3 separate regions of the Homo sapiens genome follow, and regions 1 and 2 are each linked to region 3. Evidence: fine-mapped expression QTL. A gene starts in region 3. Each other region holds a variant in brackets. All regions are shown on one strand. Distances are between the middles of the regions. Region 1 overlaps LRP6 (LDL receptor related protein 6). Region 2 has its middle 29 kb from the start of MANSC1. Region 3 holds the start of LRP6 (LDL receptor related protein 6).

Region 1 (8,249 bases), 140 kb after region 3:
ACTCAGGAGGCTGAGGCAAGAGAATCGTTTGAACCCGGGAGGTGGAGGTTGCAGTGAGCCGAGATCGTGCCATTGTACTCCAACCTGGGCGACAGGGCGAGACTCCATCTCAAAAAAAAAGAAAAAAAAGACTGGGTGTTGATCAATGAATAGTGTTCATCATGTAGATAATTGGAGAAATTTCATTTTGGGCAGAGGGAATATACTGTTCAAAAGCAGAAAAGAGTGAAACAGGCACCTCTGGGAAACTCCATGTAATGGGACTGCCAAAATACAGGCTCTGTTGAGGGGTGTCAGCAAGAGATAACATAGGTAAAGGTACAATCATGGAGGACTATGCTTTTCTTCTAAAGAGCCTAGACAATATTAACAATGGGGAGTGGAGAGTCACTGAAAATTTCAAGAAAAAGACTAGCATGGTCAAGCAATACAGAAGTTGTAAAGCCAGTGGGTTGGAGGTGATAAGCTTATAGGCAGGGAAATCTGTTAGATTGATTGCTTTCAAACTTCTGATCGCATCAAGAGGAATACAGAGATGTGAGCTCATGCATTTAAAAAGGTGTCACACAACACTTAAATATTTACCCATGTTATATAGAACACTTTCTGACATTTTCTGTTTTATTTTTTCAAAGCTGGTTGTAACCCACTAAATCATTCTCACCATTTACGAATGACTTGCAGCCTGTAATTTAAAAAGGAAGCGATTAGAGTTTAGGCAGAAGATGATAAAGATCTAAATCATGAGGAGGAGGAGTGGGGGTGGCAGGGAGAGAACAGATTTCGGAGTTGTTTCAGAAGTAGAATAAAGAGGAATTGGTAACCACTTAGCTATAGTTGATAAGTTTAAGTTGACCCACAGGTACCTCACTGAGTGACTGGAGTCATTAAATGGGATATATAGCAGGAACTGAAAACCAAAGTACCATACCACATCTTGGCTGCAGATGTAATGTTTGATTGATGTGATGTTTAATTTACATTAAATGCCTTTAGGCAGGCGTGTACTTTGCCACAAGCCCCATCACTTTTTATTATCTTATACTAGATGACTTTATTTATGGTGTCTTTACCCCTGGAATCTAGGAGAAATGACTGATCATGGTGACAGTGAGTTCAGTTTGTGATATGTTGCCTGAGAGGTACTCATGGAATATCCCACTGAAGCTCTTCAGGAAGTTGATTATAAGGAACTGTGGCTCAGAAGAGAGATTTGGTGCTCATTAGTTTATTGATAATAATGAAAGCTGTGACAGTAGATAGAATCTCCCAGGACAGTAAGAAGAGGAGGAAAATAGTAGGTGATAGATAGAAATCTCTCTGGGAAGCACCTGCACTTAAGATGCAGGCAGAAGAGAATGAAGCCAACAAAGGAAGCAGAGAAAGAATAATCAGAAATAGTAAAATTAAGAGAGTGGTATCTTGGAAGAATATTGATCAGACTTTTTTTTAAAGAGAAGACAGGAGCCAGCAGTATTGTGTAAAGAGGTTAGTGAAATGAATATATTGAATATGGCAAATAGTAGAACTTTGACTGTTGACAGAAAAGTTTCAGTGCAGTGGTGAGGGTGGAAGTCTGATTTCAGGGAGTTTATGGTGTGACCCAGAGGCTAGGGATTGAGGGTAGTGAATGTAAACTTTTCTTTCCTGAAGCTTGGCATTGCAAAGGAATGTTAGGGGACTAAAAAGGAATGAAAAGATGAGACGGTTGTTCTCAAGGACTAAGAAGAGTCTATGCTTCAGATTCCACAGACTAAATTTGTAAATGATAATCCCTACATATTATGTAACTTAGAGATGTCATTTTCACGCATTTCTTTCATATAATCTGTCAGAGGATGAGTTTAGCTATATGGATGGGAGATTTGAGGTAAGATGAAGCAGGAGGAAGTTTTTTAAAGGATCTGCAACTGTGAGATAAAATTTAACTGTTCAGAATGGAAGAATTTTCCCTCTGAATAGAGACAGTAATGCTCTAATTTCAATAAGCTCACTTTCCCTCTACCTCTGATATTGATGCCCTCTGCTTCTTAAACGGGTAGCTCAGGGATCCAGGGAAGGTGAATCCCTGGGGTGGTGTCCTCTTCTGGCAATGTGGCCTTTCTTTGTGAGTCCTCCAGTAATCAGGTATTAAAGACCTTATGTTCCTTGGTCTCAGGCAACTAGACAGCCTGAAGGCCAGCAGCATAGGGGATTTGAGAGCTGAGGCTTATCTTTAGCTTCCAGTTTTCATTCATCAGGCCTAAATGTCACTATTCAAATCTAAAATCTAACATGTGCTCAGAGCTGATTTTGGCTTCTTCACCATTCCAGGTAAAACATTTGATGACTTTTCTAGGTTTATCCCTTCTGGTCATAAATTTTTTCCCGAAATCTTGGAATACCGTTGTTCATTTGTATGGTATATAGAATGAAGTAGAATGGATTTTATCTGTTTATTTATTTAAAGCTTCTTAATGGTGTTTAAATCTGTACTTCATTTACCATCTTTGTTTCTATCTGTTTACAATTACACTTTCCAACCTATTGTTTTATTTCTGTCTTCATTTAAGGGTAGTTCATTTTGATTCCTAATGATGACATTTATTTCATATGTCTTCAGGGCGTGGTATGTATGTACTCATAAAAAAGAAAAGTGTTTATGAATTATCTTCATTAGGCTTATAGCTTCACATCCTATTAGCAAGCCCTCTTTTGATTACTATTTTGAATATACAGTTGTTTTTCTATTAAATAACCATACTGCATTCTTCATTGTAGATCCGACTGAAGAACCAGCACCACAGGCCACCAATACAGTTGGTTCTGTTATTGGCGTAATTGTCACCATTTTTGTGTCTGGAACTGTATACTTTATCTGCCAGAGGATGTTGTGTCCACGTATGAAGGGAGATGGGGAAACTATGACTAATGACTATGTAGTTCATGGACCAGCTTCTGTGCCTCTTGGTTATGTGCCACACCCAAGTTCTTTGTCAGGATCTCTTCCAGGTGAGTCAGGATGGATCCATTGAGAATCAAGTCTTTGGTCCTGCAAGACTGCCAGTTTCCATTGTGGAAAAGAATACTACCTAGAGTCTGTCTGAAACCATATTACTCTGAGTTTAAACAATTATAAGGACAAACGTTCTTTTTTACTATTAGCACCTTCTCTTTACACAGAAGGCCTTAGATATGGTTTGGTAGAAATTGTCAAAGCATATAAAGCAAATACATATGCAAGCTCTAAGCCTCTCTGACTGCAATTCTGGATGCATGCTACGGAAGGTGAATCAGCCAGTCATTTAGTGAAAGAGTTGTAAACCACAGGTTAAGTTCACCACCAGGGAACTCTAGTACTATGGAGCCCATGAATAAAAGGAGGCCAAAAATTATATAAGATTCCCTTCAGCCAACAAAGATTTGTAAATAGCTGGATGATAGAAGGGAGAATATGTCTTAAGTTTTCTCCTGACTTCATGTGCTAATAAGGGACAAAGGGCTAGTTTAGGCATAGCTGAGTAGCCAGAAGTTTTAAGCTTGGGTAGGCCGTGTTGCTCTAGGGAACTGGCCTTCTTTTTAATGTTTTCTGGTGCCCTTAGTTAAAAGACGCCTTCCTTTTAATGAATATGGAGAAGGCGGTGCCTTGCAAAAACCCTCTGAAAATAGGAACTTACTATGGGTGTAACTCTTAAGTAGACAAACATGGTTTTTAAACTGTTAATGGTAGTGTTGCTTTGTTGCCATACCTATTTTCAGTTAGTGGAATTTGGGAAGCTTCTTGGAAAAAATAGAATTTTTTCTTTAGCACTGGTAGTTTTGATTCTAGCAACATTTATATTCATTAGATGAAAAAATATTCTTTCATATGTTGTTTGTGCCCTAAAAATGTTTTTTTGTTTTCTTTTGAGCAAGTCTGGTATTTAATATGCCCTGCCTCACAACCTCTACCCTTTACAATCCTTTCAAATCCTCCAAGAGGTTGAAAAGCCCTTATTTTAAATAGCTCTGCTTCTACCAGGGGAGGGAGAAGGTGGGAGCTATTCTTGGCCTTGTTCTAGGCCAGCTCTTTCAATGGAAGCATTGACTTCTAGAAAACGTTCATTTCCTTTCTCCATTAAATGTTTTCAATTATAGGAAAAGAGTGTAAGTTATTTTAAAATCAGACTACTTCACTGTTGATATTTGTAATCCTACTGTTGAATGAAATTGCTTGATACATTTTTATATATCATACTCATCTTCAGTTTTTAACCTCCTTTTATTTTAGGAATGTCTCGAGGTAAATCAATGATCAGCTCCCTCAGTATCATGGGGGGAAGCAGTGGACCCCCCTATGACCGAGCCCATGTTACAGGAGCATCATCAAGTAGTTCTTCAAGCACCAAAGGCACTTACTTCCCTGCAGTAAGTAGTCTGTTTTCCTTTGAATGCGACATACATAAGATCTTAGATTTTTTAACTCATTTAAATGTGGGTGATCAGTGATAGTAATGTAAAAGTAGTTTTTGAATGTAAAATTTAGGCATAAAAGGCTCAAAGGACTTACCACACACCACCATCCATGCTTATAAATCTTTTAAGTTACTGTGTAGTAACCAGAATACTTGAAAGCACTGGGCATTAATTTCACATTTCAAGTAAAAGTAGAACTACTGAATGGTACCTATTGAGGGATTAGGGCCTTCATTTTATGACTTCCCAAAAGAGGAAGCACACCTGGAATTTCTCCTAAATCAATAATTTTTCTCTAAATACTTACTATTTTAAATAACCAGGACCTAAATGTACTGACCAATGATTTTTAGGTTACAGATTTTCGTTTTTGTCACTTTGCACTTTTTAGCCATGATGAGGTCTTAGGGAATGAGGAAGCCATAGTCCCAAAGTACTGTTTGAGGTCAATTCTTTGGAAAAGAAGAATTGTGCTAATAGTGTATTGTAAAGAAACACTAATAGAGATGAAGGAAGAAAAGTTGAAAGAAAGTCTGATAGTTTCTATGTTGTTATTTTAATATTTTAATTATTTTTTTCTTTTAGATTTTGAACCCTCCACCATCCCCAGCCACAGAGCGATCACATTACACTATGGAATTTGGATATTCTTCAAACAGTCCTTCCACTCATAGGTCATACAGGTAATACACATCCTTCTCTAAAATAAGGTGCAGTATTTATTGAAAGTGTTTCAGTTGTGGACCTGATATAGCCCCAAATGAGTAGACGATGGTCACCAGAGAGAGACTAGTCATCTTATCTTGATAGTACTGACATTGCCTCTACCACAAATCCTTTCCTTTCAGGACGTTATACTTTTTTTTTAATTTTTTGAGATGGATTTCGCTCTTGTTGCCCAGGCTGGAGTGTAATGGCATGATCTCAGCTCACTGCAACCTCCGCCTCCCAGGTTCAAGCGATTCTCCTGCCTCAGCCTCTCAAATAGCTGGGATTACAGACCTGCGCTACCACGCCCAGCTAATTTTGTATTTTTAGTAGAAACGTGGTTTCACCATGTTGGCCAGGCTGGTCTCGAACTCCTGATCTCAGGTGATCCGCCTGCCTTGGCCTCCCAAAGTGCTGGGATTACAGGTGTGAGCCACCACACCTGGCCTATACTTTTTTTTTTTTTTAAGAGAGTCACAAATGCTGGCTTTTATAATAATAAAATACAGCCTCAGGCTTTGGCAGTATTCTAAGGAGGAATTACCCACCAAAGTGACTGGTTTCAAAATAGTTTGATATTCTAAGAATGAAATATTGGGATAAGATTGGTTCATAGAATTGAGAGTTTAAAACAGCAACATACTCAGAGCACAGAATTTTAGAAAAGTTGAGAGAAATGTAAGTTCAGCCATTGCTTGCATATGCTATTACAATTTGGAGTGAAAGATTTCTCATGTAGTTGCATGGAATAAAGAAAGATTGAAATAAATAAAGTGTATTTGTAAGCCAAAAAAGAGAAAATTATTCCTTTTTGCTAATTTATGAGTCTATAAAGTGTGTTGAGCAGGTCAAGTACTGTTGTGTCAGCTTCCACTTCTATGTTCCTTGAAAGGCCAACAGACCATCAGTAGCTTGAGAGTTTCTATCTACACACTGAAGTGCCCAGGGTTCATGGGCATCCCTCAAGTGCCTGTTATCTTCTAGATAATCTTTTCTATCTTCTATCCTCTCTAGATAATCTTCTATTATCTTTCCTAGCATTTCAGTCAAATTGGCCTGATACGACCTCACCCATGTGTAGAAATGAAGTGGAAA[C/T]CACTTAAAGTATCTCACTCAGAATTCTCATTTCAGCTTAGATAAGACTGAAATAGCCTTGGCTGTGAACTGATTGTTTTAATGATATGTTGTAATGTTGCTTTCCCTGCCACAAGTTTCTTCTTCTAGGAAGCCAAAACAGAAAAAGCAGAAGCCTGAAAATTGAGAAAGGAGAAAGATACAAAATTTTATTTTTTAAAAGTAATGTCCTTAATTCAAATTGACTAAGGCACTCATCAGAATAAACACGATTGCATAAAAAACTATTCTTGCTTAACTATTTTCCGTATAAGCCCAATTTCTGTTTCCTCTGAGTCAAAACTTACATCATTTGTTGAGATTTTGGTTTAAACTGGGACATGAAAAAATTTTATTAATTCAGTTTGTTTTCTTTTTTTTTTTTCATGAAAATAGAAGTATTTGGACTTTTAAATGTTGACCTTAGAAATTTCACCAAGGATTGACACCTGATTGGACAAAGAGTTAAACAAAACAAACTGTGACATCATGTCAGTATTGATAGTAAAAGCCTTTGAGAACTCACTCAGTGGGTCATATAACTTTTGGTCTCTGGCAGCCTTGCACCCTTTTTATTTTTATTTTTATTTTTTTTGAGACAGGGTCTTGCTCTGTCACCCAGGCTGGAGTGCAGGGGCACAATCACAGCTTACTGCAGTCTCCACCTCCCGGGCTCAAGCAGTCCTCCTGCTTCAGCCACCCAAGTAGCTGGGACTACAGGTGTGTGTCACCACGCCTGGCTAGCTTTTTTTTATTTTTTGTAGAGACGGGGTCTTGCTATGGTGCCCAGGCTGGTTTCTTTCTTTCTTTCTTTTTTAAAGACTAATCAAATGCAGTAGTAAGAAGGGGAGACAGAGTAGAACAAGGAATTTGATCTGTGACTGTGAACAATCTGGCAGCCATTTCTTTTGAAGCAAGCCAAGTGATATCAAATGGTTTGTATCCTGGGTTCCTGGGATATATTACCTGGTGGTGCTCTGTATCACTAGGTGTTTTATGAATCGTTGTATCAGTTTTTAACTTGGTTTTCCCCTTCTCTTGTAGTCACTTTGATGAGAAAGCTTATGAAAAAATCTTTGGGATAAATTTAAGATCAGCTTTACCATATTTAGAATAAACAGGTATAAGAAGTTAAAAATAGAAGTAGGAATGACAGAAAAGCCAGAACTTAGGTCAGATCTTATTTTCACTAGTATGTTTCTCTCTTTCCAATGCCTTTTTCTTTAGTTAGCAGTGCTACAAACCTAACAACTGTATGTCACTTGTAAAGATAAACAAGTGTAAGAAATAAACTAGGCCTCTGAAATATACATTAGAAAATTCACTGACCCTTTATGGGCATTTAAATTTTATCATTTTGATGTTTAAAGCTGCTCTTATGAGAGGTACTTACCTATACACAGGGAATGAAAACCGTTTCCCCCAATCACAGCAATTTCCCTTTGCTAAGATAACAACAATGGAATAGTTATGCCCCTGAGGCTGTCTACCAAAATCCAGCCTGGACTGTACAGAAATTGTACAGAATTGTACAGAAGAAAGAAATGAAGACTTCAGATGTCATTAAATTAATTATTCATCAGGTTAATTTTGGAGTAAAGAATGTTGAGGGAATGCTGACATGTTTGAGTAGTGTAAAATATGTAAAAACCCATTCTTCCCATGGGCTATGAAACTGCAGAACAAATTTGAATAGTCATTTTTTATTCTGTGATACAGTTTAACTTGAAGATGTAAGAGCACAACCAGAGGCTAGATTGAATTCACCTCTGCATTCCCATCCTGTTCATTTTCACTTGCCACTTTCTTATTTGCAAATAAGAAAGTACCTGCTATTTTCCTCAGCGAATCTGCCATTGAAAATTGCCTCTTGGTCTGTGTAAATTTAAATTGCAGTAGCTTATTGTTTTCATAGGGTAGTTGACATCTAATACCTCTATTCTGAGAGGGGAAATCATTTTTTTTTGTAAAACTAACTGCTTCTCTTTATTTTC
Region 2 (8,441 bases), 54 kb before region 3:
GGGTGTGCACTACCATGGCCAGCTAATTTTGTATTTTTAGTAAAGGAGATGGGGTTTCACCATGTTGGCCAGGCTGGTCTTGAACTCCAGACCTCAGGTGATCTGCCCGCCTCAGCCTCCCAAAGTGTCGAGATTACAGGCATAAGCCTGCCCCTAGATAGCTTTTTATTTTGGTTTTTAGACGGCATCTTGCTCTGTCACCCAGGCTGGAGTGCAGTGGCACGATCTCAGCTCACTGCAACCTCTGCCTCCCGGGTTCAAGCAATTCTCCTGCCTCAGACTCCCAAGTAGCTGGGATTACAGGCACCCACCACCACACCCAGCTAATTTTTTAATTTTTTTGTAGAGATGGGGTTTCACCATGTTGGCCAGGCTGGTCTTGAACTCCTGACCTCAAGTGATCCACCCGCCTCGGCCTCCCAAAGTGCTGGGATTACAGGTGTGAGCCACTACACCCAGCCTAGATAGCTTTTAAATGGTGTTGAGCCGAATGATACCTTGAGCCGAAAGCATGGAAATGAAGAGGTCAGTGGTCTCATTCTGGAGTGGGCTTCATACACTTTCCCAGTTGCTGATCACCTGTACCAAAGTTAAGAGTGACTCCTCAGGGACACGCCGGAGCAGAGAACCCATCCTGTTTCCGTGTCCTGTCATCTGGGTTAATAGTACCGCCAGCCACCCAGTATCTCCTGTATTGAGCAACTTCAAAGTCATACTCTGTTTCTCCTGCTGCCTCAGCCTCCACATCCAATGTCTACCAAATATTACCTATTGTCTTTCAAAGACGCCTCTCAAAGTCAGCCGTCCCCACTGCTGCCTCCTGTTTGGTCTCCCTAACTTGCTTCTCCTTGCTCTGCTCCCACATCATATATTCCCTCCTTACGACTTCAAGTTACATTAAAAGCACAGCACACAGTACATGTAACTCCACGCATGACACTCTGTGCTCCCAGTACCTCTAGGGATGATTACCAGTTGCACGTGGCAGGTGTACCAAGGCTCCCCATGCACTAGCCCCAACCTAACCACACTGCAGCTACCTCTGTCCCGTGAAACCTGGGCTGTAGCTACACCACCCTTTTCAACATTTCTCAGTATTGCCAGACACTTTGACGAGCCATCCTCTTCCCTCTACTTGTAAATTCCTTTCCCCCTTGTTCACTTGGCAAATTTCCGCTCATCCTTCAAGACCACGATCACACGTCACCTCCACCAGAGTCTCCCCACACTCTCCCGGGAGACGTATCAATTCCTCCTGGGTTTCTGACACAGCTCGTGATTTATACCATTAGTGAAACACTTCCATGGAATCATAATGTATCAGGTTATATATTACCCCACTAGACTGGGATACGTTAGACAGCAACATTTCTCTGATTCCATCATGCTTAACAGTGTGTCTGGCACATAGGCATTCAATAAGTGATCATGAGTGAATTTTATAACCCGTTCATTGAAGGTCATTTCTTTCAGCAATGGGCAGTAATGTGATTTGGCTGCATACAGAACAGCTTCTATATCATGCAGTGAAAGTGAACGCACTGACGTGCATTTTGTAGCAGAATGGGATAAAATCCAGGTACACAGTAATGAAGTGTATACTCTCACTTCAACTAAGACCGTGTGCAGAGGGATGGGTAGATAAGTATTTGATTTTGTTTATTTCTCTCCTTTGGGTTCAGATAGTATAGTTTCCTTAGCCTATAGAGAGGATGAGCTGACAGAATGTGCTTTTGTTTGTGTTCTTATATTTTTGATTATTTTCCCTTTCTTTCTTTCCTTCTTTCCCTTGCTTTCTCTCCCTTCCTTCCTTCCTTCCTTTCTCCCTTCCCTCCCCTCCCTCCCCCCTCCCCTCCCATCCCGCTCCCCTCCCCCTCCTCTCCCCTCCCATCCCCCTCCCTTCCCCTCCCCCTCCCCTCCCCCTCCCCTCCCCTCCCCCTCCCCTCCCCCTCCCCTCCTCCTCCCTCCCTTCCTTTCTTTCTCCCTCCCCTCCCTCCCCCCTCCCCTCCCCCTCTCCTCCCCTCCCCCCTCCCCCCCCTCCTCCCCTCCCCCTCCCCTCCCCTCCCCCTCTCCTCCCCTCCCCCTCCCTTCTCCCTTCCCCTTCCCCTCCCCTCCCCTCCCCCTCCCTCCCTCCCTCCCTCCCTTCCTTTCTTTCATCACTCTGTTGTGCAGGCTGGAGTGCAGTGGCATGACAGCTCACTGCAGCCTCCACCTCCCCGGACCCAGGTGTCTCAAAAAACAAACAAACAAAAACCACAAAACACTAAATTCTGTAATTCTGATTTTATGCAAATACTGTGTATCAAGGGTCCACAGAATTACCTAAGCAATGTTATATTTGTTTTCACCTTTTTTACACGGATAATTGGTCTTCCCAGCAATATTTTAAATGACTGGAATATTAGCACTTCACTTACATTTTTTTTATCTGTTAGTCATTTATTGTTTTCCCCCTGTAGCTACAGCTCATGCCCATCTTTTTTTCCTCATCTAGTCCTAATTACAGTGCTATAAAGGATGAGAAAAACAGCTGAAAGCTGAAGGATCTGCCCAACCTGGTCTTCCGCCTCTCCATCCTGGCTTTTTTGCTGTGAGAAGTCCTACTGGCCCGTGCATTGTCTTGGTGATCAATGAACTAACATCTGTTAGTTTTAACATATCTAGACTCCCAACACTCTAAGGTTTTTCGTCTTTCTTTTCTTGGGACAAAAGGAAACCCAAATGCAGCCAGACAGGAATAGTCAAAGTTAGGAGTGGTGAGATCTCTCGGAGGTCAGGCCTCTACTGCCCCTTATCCCATTCATTCTCTACTCTATCTAGAACCACCCTCAACTTCTCAGGCCCTGAGACCTGCATCCCTCCAGCATCCCCTCTGCCTTCCAAGGCATGGCTTCCAGGAGAATGGGGAGATGGATGGGATGTGCAGGCTGTGTTTGAGGGGCCCATCTCCTTGAAGACTTCGCCTGTTCTCATAATCCCTGAAAGCCTGCTTCACTCACATCATCAGAGGAGAAAAGGAAACCTTCACCAACTGTGTTAGTCAGGGTTCTCTTAGAGGGACAGAACTAATATAAATAGATATATATATATATCCTATGATAGATAGATAGATAGATAGATAGATAGACAGACAGACAGATAGACAGACAGACATAAGGGGAGTTTATTAAGTATTAACCTCCACAATCACAAGGTCCCACAATAGGCTGTCTGCAAGCTGAGGAGCAAGGAGATCCAGTCCAAGTCCCAAAACTGAAGAACCTGGAGTCCGACGTTTGAGGGCAGGAAGCATCCAGCATGGGAGAAAGATGTAGGCTGGGAGGCTAGGCCAGTCTCTCTCCTTTTCGTGTTTTTCTGCCTGCCTTATATTCACTGGCAGCTGATTACATTGTGCCCACCAGATGAAGGGTGGATCTGCCTTCCCCAGCCCACTGACTCCAATATTAATCTCTTTTGGCAATAGCCACGCAGACACACCCAGGATTCATACTTTGTATCCCTCAATCCAATCAAGTTGACACTCAGTATTAACCATCACACCAACTATCACAACACTCACCTGACTACATACATTTTTAGGCCTTTAATGCAGATGGATCCATTTTCATAAGCTGAAGAAGATAAAAAGATGGAAGGCAGAGGTGGGAGGATCACTTAAGGCCAGGAGTTCAAGGCCAGCCCGAGCAACCTAGCAAGACCCTGTCTCTAAATAAATTTTTTTTTAAAGAAGAAAGGTGAAAGGATAATATAGAAGAAATAGTATTTGAAGCCAATGCATAAGTTTCTAAGTGAGTGAAGGTGAGTAGGTGAAAGACAGGATTCCAGAGATTGGGCAGATGAACCATTAGCAAACAATTGAATGTTATTGTCTTTTTGTGTTTTTTTTTGTTGTTGTTTGTTTGTTTTTCTCTTTTAGAGACAGAGTATTGCTCTGTTGCCCAGGCCAGAGGCAGTGCTATGATCAGAGCTCAATGCTGCCGTGACCTCCTGGGTTCAAGTGATCCTCCTGCCTCAGCCTCCCAAGTAGCTGGGACTACAGGTATGCATCACCATGCCTAGTTAATTTTTTAAATTTTTTGTAGAGACAGGGTTTCGCTATGTCGCCCAGGCTGGTCTCAAACTCCTGGCCACAAGCGATCCTCCCACCTCAGCCTCCCAAAGTGCTGGGATTACAGGCATGAGCCACCGTGCTTGGCCTCATTGTTTAATATTTAATGAAAGTATACATGGTGCTAAATTTATTTAGCCTCAGTCAGTGACCCCTAACAAACCACTAAGGCATTCCATGCCAGGCTGACCAGGTACAGTGGCACACAAGCCAAATGCTACTGCCACACAGCCTCCTTTTTAAATGTCCCAGAGTAGAGAGGAATAGGGACAGCTGCATTTTTGCAGCCAGCAAGGAGCTCCAGAGAGATCCTTTCCCAGCAGCCCCTGCCTTCCAGACAGGCGTTCT[T/C]ATGCTCCAGTTATGTTCTGCAAATCTCAGCTTTTTTCATGTCCTCATCAGTCAACATCATCAGCAAGCTTTGCGGGGAGAAAGCCAAAAAAGTTCTTATCTTTAAAAACAAAAAAAAAAGAAAGGAAAGTCTTGCATTAGACGGACTTTGTCCAGCGCTGTTGCACCCGCCCTCCCTTCCTTCCACTCATACCTAACTTTGAAAACTGTCCCCAGGCATAATAAAATCCCCCTGGCTGGATTTACGACCTTCCAAGCTGCAGTGGAGAGGAAAAAGGCCCAACTCTGAGAAAAACAAGTATCCAGGGAGGACGGTGTGTGCTGAATTTTAAAATGTTAAATTACGGTGAAAAATTTGCTGGAAAAGAAACTATCTTTCAAATTGTGCTACATAGTAAAGTTAATAGAGCCCATATGTCCTCTACTAAAATTTAGAAAAACAAACTAAAAACAATACTTTCGCGCCTGCCAGGCTGAAATGTGATCTACTTCTTAATATTCACCCAACACAGGGTAAAATGCTTTAAGATGGTAATGATTCCAAAGCGCAGCTCAAGCTCAGTGGATAAACAACAGACCTCAAACCCTGGGGGGCTCATGTTCTCATCATAGCTCTGGGCAAGTCACTTAATCTCATGGTTCCTTCTCAATTTTCTCAGCTCTGAAACGGGGATGGCAGCACTTCACGAGGTGTTTATGAGGCATACTAAGATGGTTGTAAAACATTTTACAAATGTTTAATAACTGATGCCCTTTTCATAATTTGGCTTTATAACATCTTTCATTATTCATTCAGTGGTGTGGAAATAAATGAGTACAGGGGCTATTTACTCAGAGCTTGCTATGCTATGGGAGTCAGCTTCCATCACTTTGGCAGAAGGTCAAAGCAGGCAGAGGAGTGAGAGAATTTACAGTGACAAAAAGGGAAGGCTTCAGGTTTATCTGGATTGGAGCTTATTGGCACGAGGAAGTGGGAGATGGACTGCTTAGAAGCAGGGCAGGCTGGGTGCGGTGGCTCACGCCTGTAATCCCAGCAATTTGGGAGGCTGAGGTGGGAAGCTCACAAGGTCAGGAGTTCAAGGCCAGCCTGGCCAACATAGGGAAACCTCGTCTCTGCTAAAAATATAAATAAATAAATAAATAAGCCGGGCATGGTGGTGCGTGCCTGTAGTCCCAGCTGCTAGGGAGGCTGAGGCAGGAGAATTGCTTTAATCTGGGAGGCAGAGGTTGCAGTGAGCCAAGATCGCACCACTGCACTCCAGCCTGGGTGACAAAGCGAAACTCTGTCTCAAAAAAAAAAAAAAAAAAAAAATGAAGCAGGGCATCTTCGGTGATTAGTCTGGGGAGCATCTTTGGCTTTCTCTGGTCGGTGCTGAGTTGGAAGCCAAGTGGTTTGGCTTCCCCAGCTGGTTGCTACAAAGTTTGTGAGACTCAGTTCTATTCCCCATGGTCTGGCCATTGTTCACTGTTGGTATATTCATCCGTGAAAAATTAAAGATAGGAGGGTTCTGACTACCCCAGGAGAAAACCAGGTGCCTGCCTAGCAGCCTAGGGAGTAATTTATATTTCTTATACCTTTTAAATACTTTTAGAAGAAGCAAATTTAGAAGATAGACTGCTGAACCAACAATTTTCACTCTCTTGAGTCACTGGGCACAACGAGCTAGCAATCAGGACAATTGAGTTCCAGACATGAGTCTATTATAAGATGGGCAAAAGGGAGGTGGGAAGACTGACAAGTCACATAACCTCTCAGGGCCTCAGTTTCCTTGTGAACAGCCTGCGAGTTCCTATCTGTCTACCCTATTGCATTGTTTGGTTTTGAGGATAAGTGGCCTAATAGTTTGTAAAAGGACCCTATAAAGCAGATTTTTTTTTTTTTTGAAATAGAGTCTTGCTCTGTCGCCCAGGCTGGAGTGCAGTGGTGCAATCTTGGCTCACTGCAACCTCTGCCTCCTGGATTCTAGCGATTCTCGTGCTTCAGGATCCCGAGTAGCTAGAATTACAGGTTCACGCCACCACGCCTGGCTTATTTTTGTATTTTTAGTAGAGACTGGGTTTCACTGTGTTGGCCAGGCTGGTCTTGAACTACTGGCCTCAAGCGATCCGCCTGCCTTGGCCTCCCAAAGTGCTGAGATTACAGGCGTTAGCCACTGCATCTGGCCCCGGCTAATTTTTGTATTTTTAGTAGAGACGGGGTTTTGCCATCTTGGCCAGGCTGGTCTCGAACACCTGACCTTGTGATCCATCTGCCTCGGCCTCCCAAAGTGCTGGGATTACGGGCGTGAGCCACCACACTTGGTCCCTATAAAGCAGATAGTTTAAACCCTATAAAACAGGTATTTTAGAAGTGTGCTATGGAAGAATGTGGCATAAGCCTTTGAAGATCCACCTAGTGGACTGGAGTCTTGAAAATGCCCACGTGTCCTGTAGGAGGAATGCCAGACTCTTACAGACTCACCCTCTTTCCCATCTCTGTCTCCACCAAGGCCCACCCCTGCCCACTCCCCTGCTCCTCTGTTTTCAGTCTCTGTGAATGGAATCACCAGAAACGGGAATTTCTTTGGGCCTCTGCAGGAAACTAGCATACTTGACTTCAACCTCTCGTTAATTCCTCTGTTTATTCAAAAATAATGGGTTCCTTATTGCTATTTTAACATGAAGTAATAAATATTTTTTTAATTTCTTATTTTAAATTTCTAATATAGTGAATACTGATAGCTGTAACCAACATAAACAAAATCTCTTTAGGTCTTCAACAATAGTTGAGAATGAAAAAGGGCCGGGCAGCACTTTGAGAGGCCGAGGTGGTCAGATCACCTGAGACCAGCCTGGCCAAGAATGGCAAAACCCTGTCTCTACTAAAAATATGAAAATTAGCCCGCCATGGTGGCGGGCACCTGTAATCTCAGCTACTTGGGAGGCTGAGGCGCAAGAATGGCGTGAACCCGGAAGGTGGAGATTGCAGTGAGCTGAGATCGTGTCATTGCACTCCAGCCTGGGCAATAGAGCAAGATTCAGTCTCAAAAAAAAGAAAAGAAAAAAAAACAAGACTCAGTCTCAAAAAAAAAGAAAAAAAAGAAAAAACACATAAGAATGTAAAGGGTCCTAAAACTAAAACTTCATTAGCCACTGCTTTAGATACTCTTACCCTTTATCTCAGTGATTCTACTGCTAGGATTCTATTTTAAGGCCATAGAATTCCACATAGAAATGAACGCACAGTATGCTCGTTGCAGCACAATTATCAGTAGAATCAACCTGAGTCTCTGAAGAGGATTAAATAATTCACAGTACATTCATAAAATAAAATATTATACAGTTAATAAACATATTTTCAAAGAATTTTGATGATAGGGGAAATGCTAGCAGGGTAATAGTAAATGAAATAGCAGTACATGAAACCATACTGAGAATGCTCACAATTTTGTGTTTATGTGTATGTACAGCTTAAACATACTATATACACTAAACTGTTCCCAGTGATTCTCCATTTAGGGATTATTGGACTCTGGGTGATATTTTTCTGTATTTACATGCTGTCTACAGAAAACTCACATATTTTTATAATTAGAAAAACATAGGCCGGGCGCGGTGGCTCACGCCTGTAATCCCAGCACTTTGGGAGGCCGAGGTGGGTGGATCACGAGGTCAGGAGACCGAGATCATCCTGGCTAACACGGTGAAACCCCATCTTTACTAAAAATACACAAAAAATTAGCTGGGCGTGGTGGCGGACGCCTGTAGTCCCAGCTACTTGGGAGGCTGAGGTAGGAGAATGGTGTGAACCCAGGAGGCGGAGCTTGCAGTGAGCCAAGATCGCGCCACTGCACTCCAGCCTGGGCGACTGAGCAAGACTCTGTCTCAAAAAAACAAAACGAAAAAACATAAAAGTTACTTTAAAAATATTTATAACACCAAATATATATGTGTGTGTGTGTGTGTGTGTGTGTGTGTGTGTGTGTGTGTGTGTATTTTTTTTTTT
Region 3 (8,441 bases):
AAAAGTCCTGTTTTAATCTCGTATTCTTTAAATCCATGATGTCTTTTCAGTCCTCAGCGCTGCTGTCCTGATTGCCCCTTTCATAGACTTCTGTACAATGTGCAAAATTCTTCAATGTCCGCATTGTTAATATGCTAAAATCTAAACTTCTTAGCATGGCTTGAAAAGGTTTTTATTAATCAATAGCTATTTAATGGTCCTGCCTCAATTCCTGACATTCTCTAAAAGCATTCCATGCATCAGCTATATGAATCTACTTTCAAATCCCCAACATACTAAGTTCTCTAATGATTCAGTGTCTTTAAACCTACTATTGTGATTGAAATTTTTTTTCAGTCTTGTTGGCCTGGCAAAGTCTGATTTGTATTTCCAACCTCAGCGCTAGGGTTATTTTCCCTTCTTTTGTTTTGTTTTGTTTTGTTTTTTTGAGACAGAGTTTCACTCTGTTGCCCAGTCTGGAGTTCAGGGGCGCAATCTCGGCTCACTGCAACCTTCGCCTCCTGGGTTCAAGTGATTCCTGTGCCTCAGCCTCGTGAGTAGCTGGGATTAAAGTTGTGAGCCACTGCGCCTGGCCCTTTTTTCCCTTCTTTGAATTGTCTAGGCAGAAAAGCATCTCTACACTTAGCAATTTTGTCTTTTTTTTTTTTTTAGTTGGAGACAGGGTCTCACTGTATTGCCCAGGCTGGAGTGCAGTGGCAAGATCACAGCTCACTGCAGCATTGGCCTCCTAGGCTCAAGTGATCCTCCAACCTTAGCCTCCCGAATAGCTAGGACTCCAGGTACACGCCACCATGTCTAGCTAATTTTTGTATTTTTTGTAGAGATGGGGTTTCGCCATGTTGCCCAGGCTGGTCTCGAGCTCCTGGGCTCAAGTGATCTGCCCACTTTGACTTCCCAAAGTGCTGGGATTACAGTTGTATGCCACTGTGCCCTGCAGATTTTAATATTTTAATTACTCACTTTATTAATCAGTGTTTCCAAACTAGGCTGTAAGCTTCTTGAGGGTAGGGACTATGATTACTCTCATCTTTATATCCCCAACACTTAACAGAGTGATTGGTATCTGATTGGCACTTAAAAGAATGAGAAACAAAATTAGTTATGCAGTAATAATGGCATTCTCTCTAGGGCTTAAGCTTAACCTATAGATTTTCACTTAAGCATCTTTTAAAAATTTGTAGTAAATATATAGTACATTAAACAAAATTGAAGAACAGAAAAGCAAACTACATCTCATATTATTTCACCATCCTAATGCCTATTTTAGTGCACTTACTTTTGGTCTTTGCTCAAATATGTGCTATATATATGTGTGTGCATTTATGTTTGTATATTATATATATTTTTATTTTACATAGCTATAATCAAATGTACATGCACTTTCACTTTTTAAAAGCTTAACTCGGCCGGGCGCGGTGGCTTACGCCTGTAATCCCAGCCCTTTGGGAGGCCAAGGAGAGCGGATCACTTGAGGTCGGTAGTTCGAGACCAGCCTGACCAACATGGAGAAAGCCCGTCTCTACTAAAGATACAAAATTAGCTGGGTGTGGTGGCGCATGCCTGTAATCCCAGCTACTCAGGAGGATGAGGCAGGACAATCACTTGAACCTGGGAGGAGGAAGTTGTGGTGAGCCGGGATTGTGCCATTTTACTCCAGTCCAGGCAGCAAGAGCACAACTCCGTCTCAAAAAAAAAAAAAAAAAAAAAAAAAGCTTAACTCACTATAAACATTCAACACTGTTGCATAATCCTCTAAATTATTATTTTTCAGCAGTGTGTAATATCTCATTCCCCTACTTAGGTTGATAGTCTGAGGAGATTTAGGTTGTACCGCATTTTCTTTTTTATTTTATTTTATTTTTTTCGAGACGGAGTCTCGCTCTTTCGCCCAGGCTGGACTGCAGTGGCGCTATCTAGGCTCACTGCAAGCTCCGCCTCCCGGGTTCACGCCATTCTCCTGCTTCAGCCTCCTGAGTAGCTGGGATTACAGGCGCCCGCCACCGCGCCCGGCTAATTTTTTGTATTTTTAGTAGAGACGGGGTTTCACCGTGTTAGCCAAGATGGTCTCGATCTCCTGACCTCGTGATCCGCCTGCCTCGGCCTCCCAAAGTGCTGGGATTACAGCCGTGAGCCACCGTGCCCGGCCAGTTGTACCGCATTTTCTATTATAAATAGGGACAGATCCAGGCTTTGTGGGACTTGAAGCTTATACAATTTTGTATAATACAATTATACAGAAGAGGAATTCAAAATTATCTTTGTTTTGCAAATAGGACCATGTGAACATACCATAAAGGCCCCTCCCCAGACATTGGAAGGGGCCTGTGAAAGTGAAGGTTAACTTTCTTTTCTTTTTTTTTTTTTTTCTGAGACGCAATCTTGCTCTGTTGCCCAGGCTGGAGTGTAATGACGCGATATCGGCTCACTGCAACCTGCGCCTCCTGGATTCAAGCCATTCTCCTGCCTCTGCCTCCTGAGCAGCTGGGATGACAGGCGTGTGCCACCATGCCCGGCTAATTTTTTTTGTATTTTTAGTAGAGACGGGGGTTTCACCATGTTGGACCAGGCTGGTCTCGAACTCCTGACCTCGTGATCTGTCCGCCTCGGCCTCCCAAAGTGCTGGGATTACAGGCCTGAGCCACCCGCCCCCGGCCCAGTTTCCTGCTTTGAGGAAGCCAGAATACAAAACTCACTTGGTTCTTAGAAGCAGGTCATTTAAATAAACGGTGACTAGACCTCAGGTGAATTTGGGAGAAAGTGATTTGGCTGTTTCTGCTGTCCATCTACTTACAAACCTGCAGCACCTTTGGTTCAGCGCGCATTTCTTGGAAGGAGCGGAGTGGCTTAAGTCAGAGACCTGGATTGGGCTGAGGTACTGCTATTCATTACTTGAGTGGCCCTGGGTAAGTCATTAACCTCTCAGGTTCTCATTTTGCTCCTCTGTGCAATAAAGAATAAGTAACAAAACCTGCCTTTCCCCAGGGTAGTTTTGAGTGTCAAATATGATAACTTGTGTTCAAGCACTAGTGAACTCCAATGTCACTGAGGTACTTGTTAACATTGTGGTAGCAGCTCCACTTTCTTGCCCATCTGCCTCCAGGTAAGGGCGTGTGACAGCTGGGCAGGATGCATCTGATGGCTCCATTAGGGTTAACTGTTGGAGCGCCTCTGCCCAGACGAAAGCCTGGCAGGTGATTTCAGGGGGCGTCTGGGCCATTACTCCTGAATGCCCAATGCACTGGGAGTAGCAGAGGCTGTGCACAGTCTGAGATTCTAGGGAATCTTTTCCTTCTCAAGCTGAGAATTGATAATCGAAGCATGCCAAACATTCGTTATTATATGCAACTTGTAAAATCCTAAATAGTCTTGTCCAATTGTCCCTTTGCTCTTAGGTTTTGAGGCATTTATCTTGGAATTTTATCTGCCAGTTTAGAAATCTTTAGCTGGTCGGGCTTAATTCTGGGGGCAGTTTGTATTTCTGGGAAGGCGGGAGAAAAATGACAATCTCAGTTTTGAATTGGCGTTTTAATATCGTTCACCAGATCCACGCTGAAAGCCGGTGTAAACAGCGTTCAAAAATTCCGCCCTCCCAAAAAAAGGATGCTGAAACCGATTTCCAACCCCGAAGACGGAGCTCATCACCCCGCAACGGGATCCGCCGTGGCTCCCCGCGCGTGCACCGCGGCTGGGCAGTCTCAGGTGGCTGGGGGCGCGAGACCGGAGCCCCACCTGGCCCTGCCGGCGGCGGCCGCACAAAGAGCGGGGCAGACGGCTGCCCGGCCGAGCCGCAGAAAGTAGTCCCGACCACGCCGGCTCCAATGTTGTTCAACGCCGCCTCACGCCCTCCGCGGGGAGGGCCGAAGCGGCCGGTCCGGGAAAGAATCCCGCTGGAATGCGCCACCGGGAGGAGGCTTTCCCTCCCAGTTCGCCTCTGCTAGCCCAGAACCTCTCCCAGGGTCTCAGGCAGAGGCTGTGCGTGCGGTTGCCGACTCCCTTCCCTGGCCGTACAGGAGGCAGTACCGGGAGAAGGGGCTCGTTGCGCGCAGGGACACGGTCGCGGCGACCCTAGGAGGCGGTGCCGACCGTATCCCTGCGCCGCTGCGCGAGGCAGAGGCTGAATGAGGAGCTGCGCGGGGGAAGCGGGGCGCCGGGGGAGGAGGCGGCGGGATGGAAGCAGACGCTGGCGTCGCGCGAGCCCGGGGCCGAGCGGCGCGGTAGAGAGGGCGGCGGCGGCGCGCGCGGAACCTTGACGTGCCCCTTTCTTTCTTCTCTCGCTGGGAAGCTGGGAAGTATGAGCGTGCAGCCCTGCCGCTGCGGCGGCCGCCCCGGCTCCTCGCCTCCCCCACTTCTGGCCACCCCTCGCCGGTGAGAGAAGAGAACGCGAGAAGGGAAGATGGGGGCCGTCCTGAGGAGCCTCCTGGCCTGCAGCTTCTGTGTGCTCCTGAGAGGTGGGAAGAGTGGGGGCACTGGAAAGTTGGTGGGGTTCGGGGGGAGGTGGCCTTGTTGTATGTGTCTAGGGGGAGGGGAGGGACGGAGGAAGGGAGAAGGGGAGAGGAGCGGGGAGAGGCCTGGTCGTGGGGAGGGGGAGAGAAAGGGGCCCGGGAGCAGGGGCTGCGTGCACCGCCCGGCCACAATGCGGACCTGGCCTGGCTTCCCAGACCTTCCCCGGACACATCGGAGCTTCGATCCCGGCTGCTGGTCTTAGGGAACCCTTGGCACCCCATGCTGTCGGGATGACTGAGTGTCTGTGTGCCTCTCTCTGCCTGGGGTCTTCCAGGGAAAAGGGTCTTTGTACGTATTTTGGCTTTTAAAATGTTTGAGTCCGAGATGCTTTAAGGTTGGCCTTATCCATCGAAGCCCCGCCACCCACTCCCCACCCCGTTTCGGTGTTTCTTAGGTGAACTTTTAAAGCCCTCTTGCTATTTTTTCCAGGCCTTGTTACAGGTAATGATTGGCTTCCGTTTGGGATATAATGACCCTGGGTGAGAGCGCAGTTGGAAAGTGACTCCGGGGTTATAGGTCGAGCGTTTCAGCATTGGGAGCCTTCTGAGCTTCAGCCCATAATAAAATAAAACATTGCCCTTGTAACCTCTGGTATTCACGGCTTGCCCCTATTTTCGGAGTATGCAAGTGTACAGTTGGCACTAAGTAGGGAAATTCATCCTCGTGTGAAGAGGAGCCGGTCCTGGGACCAAAATGATAATTTGCTCTGCACCCCTGGGGACTGCTTGGCACTTTGGTAAATTGCATAGGCTGTTCGAGATAATTTGCTCTGGGAATCGCTTGAATTCGATGGCACTATGATGTTTTGAATTGGACTGCAAAGCTGACACATGCTCTGTGACTTTTGTGACAGTTCACAAAGATTTTTGACTGGCCCGTCGGCAGCTCTTCTCAAACTATTTAGTGTTGAACTTGAGATGGCTGTGATGGCTGTGGAGCATTTACCAGCAGAGGAATTTAAGTACTGCTCGATACGGTGGCTTGTAGTTTTGGTTTGGTAAAGTTCTTACTGGCGTTCATAGTAAGTTCTTTTCAGGCATGTGACCGCTGGTCGCTGGAGATTTTTAGGTGTTAACAAGCTAAACTTTTGTTAAGTTCTCCAAACTAATTTAAGTTTACAGAACACTAATAGTAACTAATAGTCTGTGACAGGTGTATATTTTTGCGTGTACTGTGTATATGTATTTCGGATGAGAATGATTGAGTTTTTTTTTGGAGGAGGAGAAATACTTTCTTCAGTTACTCTGTAGTAATGCAGCATTGTGTTTGCATGTTATATTACTTGATACTCTAAGCATATTACAAAGTTTTCCCACATGTAAACCCCGGAAAGGTAGTGTTCATTAGATTTTTGTGGCAGAAATTTTAATGAAGTGTTACGTACTGGAGAGGTTTCATAAGTATATACTTATTTTATTATTGGCATACTCTATTGAAAGGGGTTTTGCTGTAGCTGTTAGAAACAACTATATTTGACATAAGAATATGTATGTATTTTAAGACATAAGGTTAATAGGGCTGACAAATATGAGAACCAGCTGATTGGTTAGAGTCGTGGGAAAACTTATAACTTGGGATGTTTCTGGTTGTCTAGTTGTATTTCTTGGAGGAGAAGCGTGTGATGTAAATGCCGTTTGTTTAACACCAGCTTTGAGACCAGAGCTGGGTTTGTTCATTATTGGAATTTAGATAGGTTGCACTTATTTATGTAACAAGACCTGGAAGAGGTAATAGTTTAAATTGTCTCGTTTCCACTAGCAAAGTTTTCAGAAGTGGAGCTCTCGTTTTAAATGTGGCGAAATATGGTGTAAGGTGGTCTTCTAATATGTAACAGTACTGTACTTAGCTGTGAGTACATATTATTTGAAGTAAAACTGTCTTTTGATGTAAAATATTTTTGTTCATAATTTAGAATTAATTCATTCTTTGAGAATGTCATCCTCTGTTATAGTAAAGATATTTAGTCAACCTTGGACTCCAAGGAGAAAAATCTGATTGATTTGTTGCATTTAGGTCATTTTTTTCCCCCACAAAGAATTGGGGCTTTAACATTGGCTGGGTGTGATGGGGTATGTGAGAGTCTGGGAGACCTTCTGTCCTGTAGCCCTGTTGAATTAGTAGCAGAAAGCCAGGGAATACTGTTAGTGCTGTGTCCCTATCTCTATCATCACATGACAAGGTATAAAGGAAAGATTTGGGAATTTCAATACTAAAATCTTGGATTTAAAGCCCAAGTGTCACAACTTCATAACTTTGTGGTTCTGGTCTAGTCCGCTTCTCTAGGTCTCAGTTTCTTTACTGGTAGTGTGGATAATGATACCTGACTAGTTTGCAGGGTTATTGGGTGTTTTAAATGAAATAATATGGAGTACCTTGTTAATGTTACTTTTTGCTATAATTTTTGCTTGTTCAGGGACATATCCTCAAATGCTTTCATGATTTGAGATTTAATTTGTATAACGTTCACAATTTTTTTTTTTTTAAAGAGACAAAGTCTTGCTTCATCACTCAGTCTGGGGTGCAGTGGTGTAATCACAGCTCATTGCAGTCTCAAAGTCTTGGGCTTAAGTGATCCTCCTGCTTCATCCTCCCAAAGCTCTGAACTATAGGCACGTGCCACTATGCCCCCAATTTTTTGTAGATATGGGGTTGGTGTGGGGGTGTCTTGATATGTTGCCCAGGCTGGTCTCCAACTCCTGGCCTCAAGTGATCCTCTCAAAGTGCTGGGATTACAGGTTACAGGTGTGAGCCACCATGCTTGGCCAGGTTCACGAATTCCTATTTTTTTTTTGGAGGTAGGGTCTTGCTCTGTTGCCTAGGCTGGAGTGCAGTGGCATGATCGCTGCTCACTGCAGCCTGGACCTCCTGTGTTCATGTGATCTTCCCACCTCAGCCTCCCAAGTAGCTGGGACCACAGTTGTGTGCCATAACACTTGGCTAATTTTTATAGAGCCAGAGTTTTGCTATGTTGCCCAGGATGGTCTTAAACTCCTGGGCTCAAGTGATCCTCCCACCTCCGCCTCTCGGAGTTCTGGGATTACAGGTGCAGATTCACACATTCTTTTTTTTTTTTTTGAGACGGATTCTTGCTCTGTTGCCCAGGCTGGAGTGCATTGGTGTGATCTCCGCTCACTGCAAGCTCTGCCTGCCGGGTTCACGCCTTTCTCCTGCCTCAGCCTCCTGAGTAGCTGGGACTCATTTTTTTGTATTTTTTAGTAGAGACGGGGTTTCACTGTGTTAGCCAGGATGGTCTCCATCTCCTGACCTCGTGATCCGCCCACCTCGGCCTCCCAAAGTCCTGGAATTACAGGCGTGAGCCACCACGCCCGGCCAGATTCACACATTCTTTTTTTTTTTTTAAAGACAGAGTTTCGCTCTTGTTGCTCAGGCTAGAGTGCAATGGCATGATCTCGGCTCACTGCAACCTCCGCCTCCCGGGTTCAAGCGATACTCCTACCTCAACCTCCTGAGTAGCTGGAATTACAGGCATGCACCACCATGCCCAGCTAATTTTTTTTTTTTTTTTGTATTTTTAGTAGAGATGGGGTTTCTCCTTGTTGGTCAGGCTGGTCTCGAACTCCCGACCTCAGGTGATCTGCCCATCTCGGCCTCCCAAAGTGCTGGGATTACAGGTGTGAGCCACCACGCCTGGCCCAGATTCACACATTCTTAAAAGTGAAAGGGATCTTGGTCGTTTGAGCCTCACCAGTTTATTTGTAAGTGGGGAAACTCAGATTCAGAGATACTGTAATTTAATAAAGGTAGGTTAATTAAAGATGGGGCAGGGATTTATTATTCATTCTTTTAGCAAATATGTATGGAATACCTCCTATATGTCAGCCTCTGGTACTGATGGTGAGTAAAACAATGTGTTTCCTAATCTAACGGGCCTCACAGTTTAGGTTGCCATCCTTACCATTTTCTTAGTTCCATTCGGA

The links. PIP is the estimated chance that this variant, and not a neighbour inherited with it, causes the effect. A credible set is the group of variants that fine-mapping cannot tell apart.
Region 1: its variant is the best candidate, but not a certain one, in a credible set for the expression of LRP6 in spleen (GTEx, PIP 0.64).
Region 2: its variant is the best candidate, but not a certain one, in a credible set for the expression of LRP6 in whole blood (INTERVAL, PIP 0.68).

The regions. Positions count from the first base shown.
Region 1 is chr12:12,121,433-12,129,681 of GRCh38, reverse strand. LRP6 (LDL receptor related protein 6) reads left to right here. Exons shown (of 23, transcript NM_002336.3): 20 at 2,761-2,991; 21 at 4,250-4,386; 22 at 5,020-5,117. Among named protein-coding and RNA genes, the nearest start is that of MIR1244-4, 14 kb to the right of the region's middle. The variant C/T (reference allele first, on the strand shown) is at 6,238.
Region 2 is chr12:12,316,608-12,325,048 of GRCh38, reverse strand. No RefSeq gene overlaps it. Among named protein-coding and RNA genes, the nearest start is that of MANSC1, 29 kb to the left of the region's middle. The variant T/C (reference allele first, on the strand shown) is at 4,457.
Region 3 is chr12:12,262,688-12,271,128 of GRCh38, reverse strand. LRP6 (LDL receptor related protein 6) reads left to right here and starts at 4,085. Exons shown (of 23, transcript NM_002336.3): 1 at 4,085-4,448. The coding sequence starts at 4,394. RefSeq lists enhancers at 3,855-3,904, 3,442-4,078, 7,255-7,755 and a silencer at 4,085-4,394.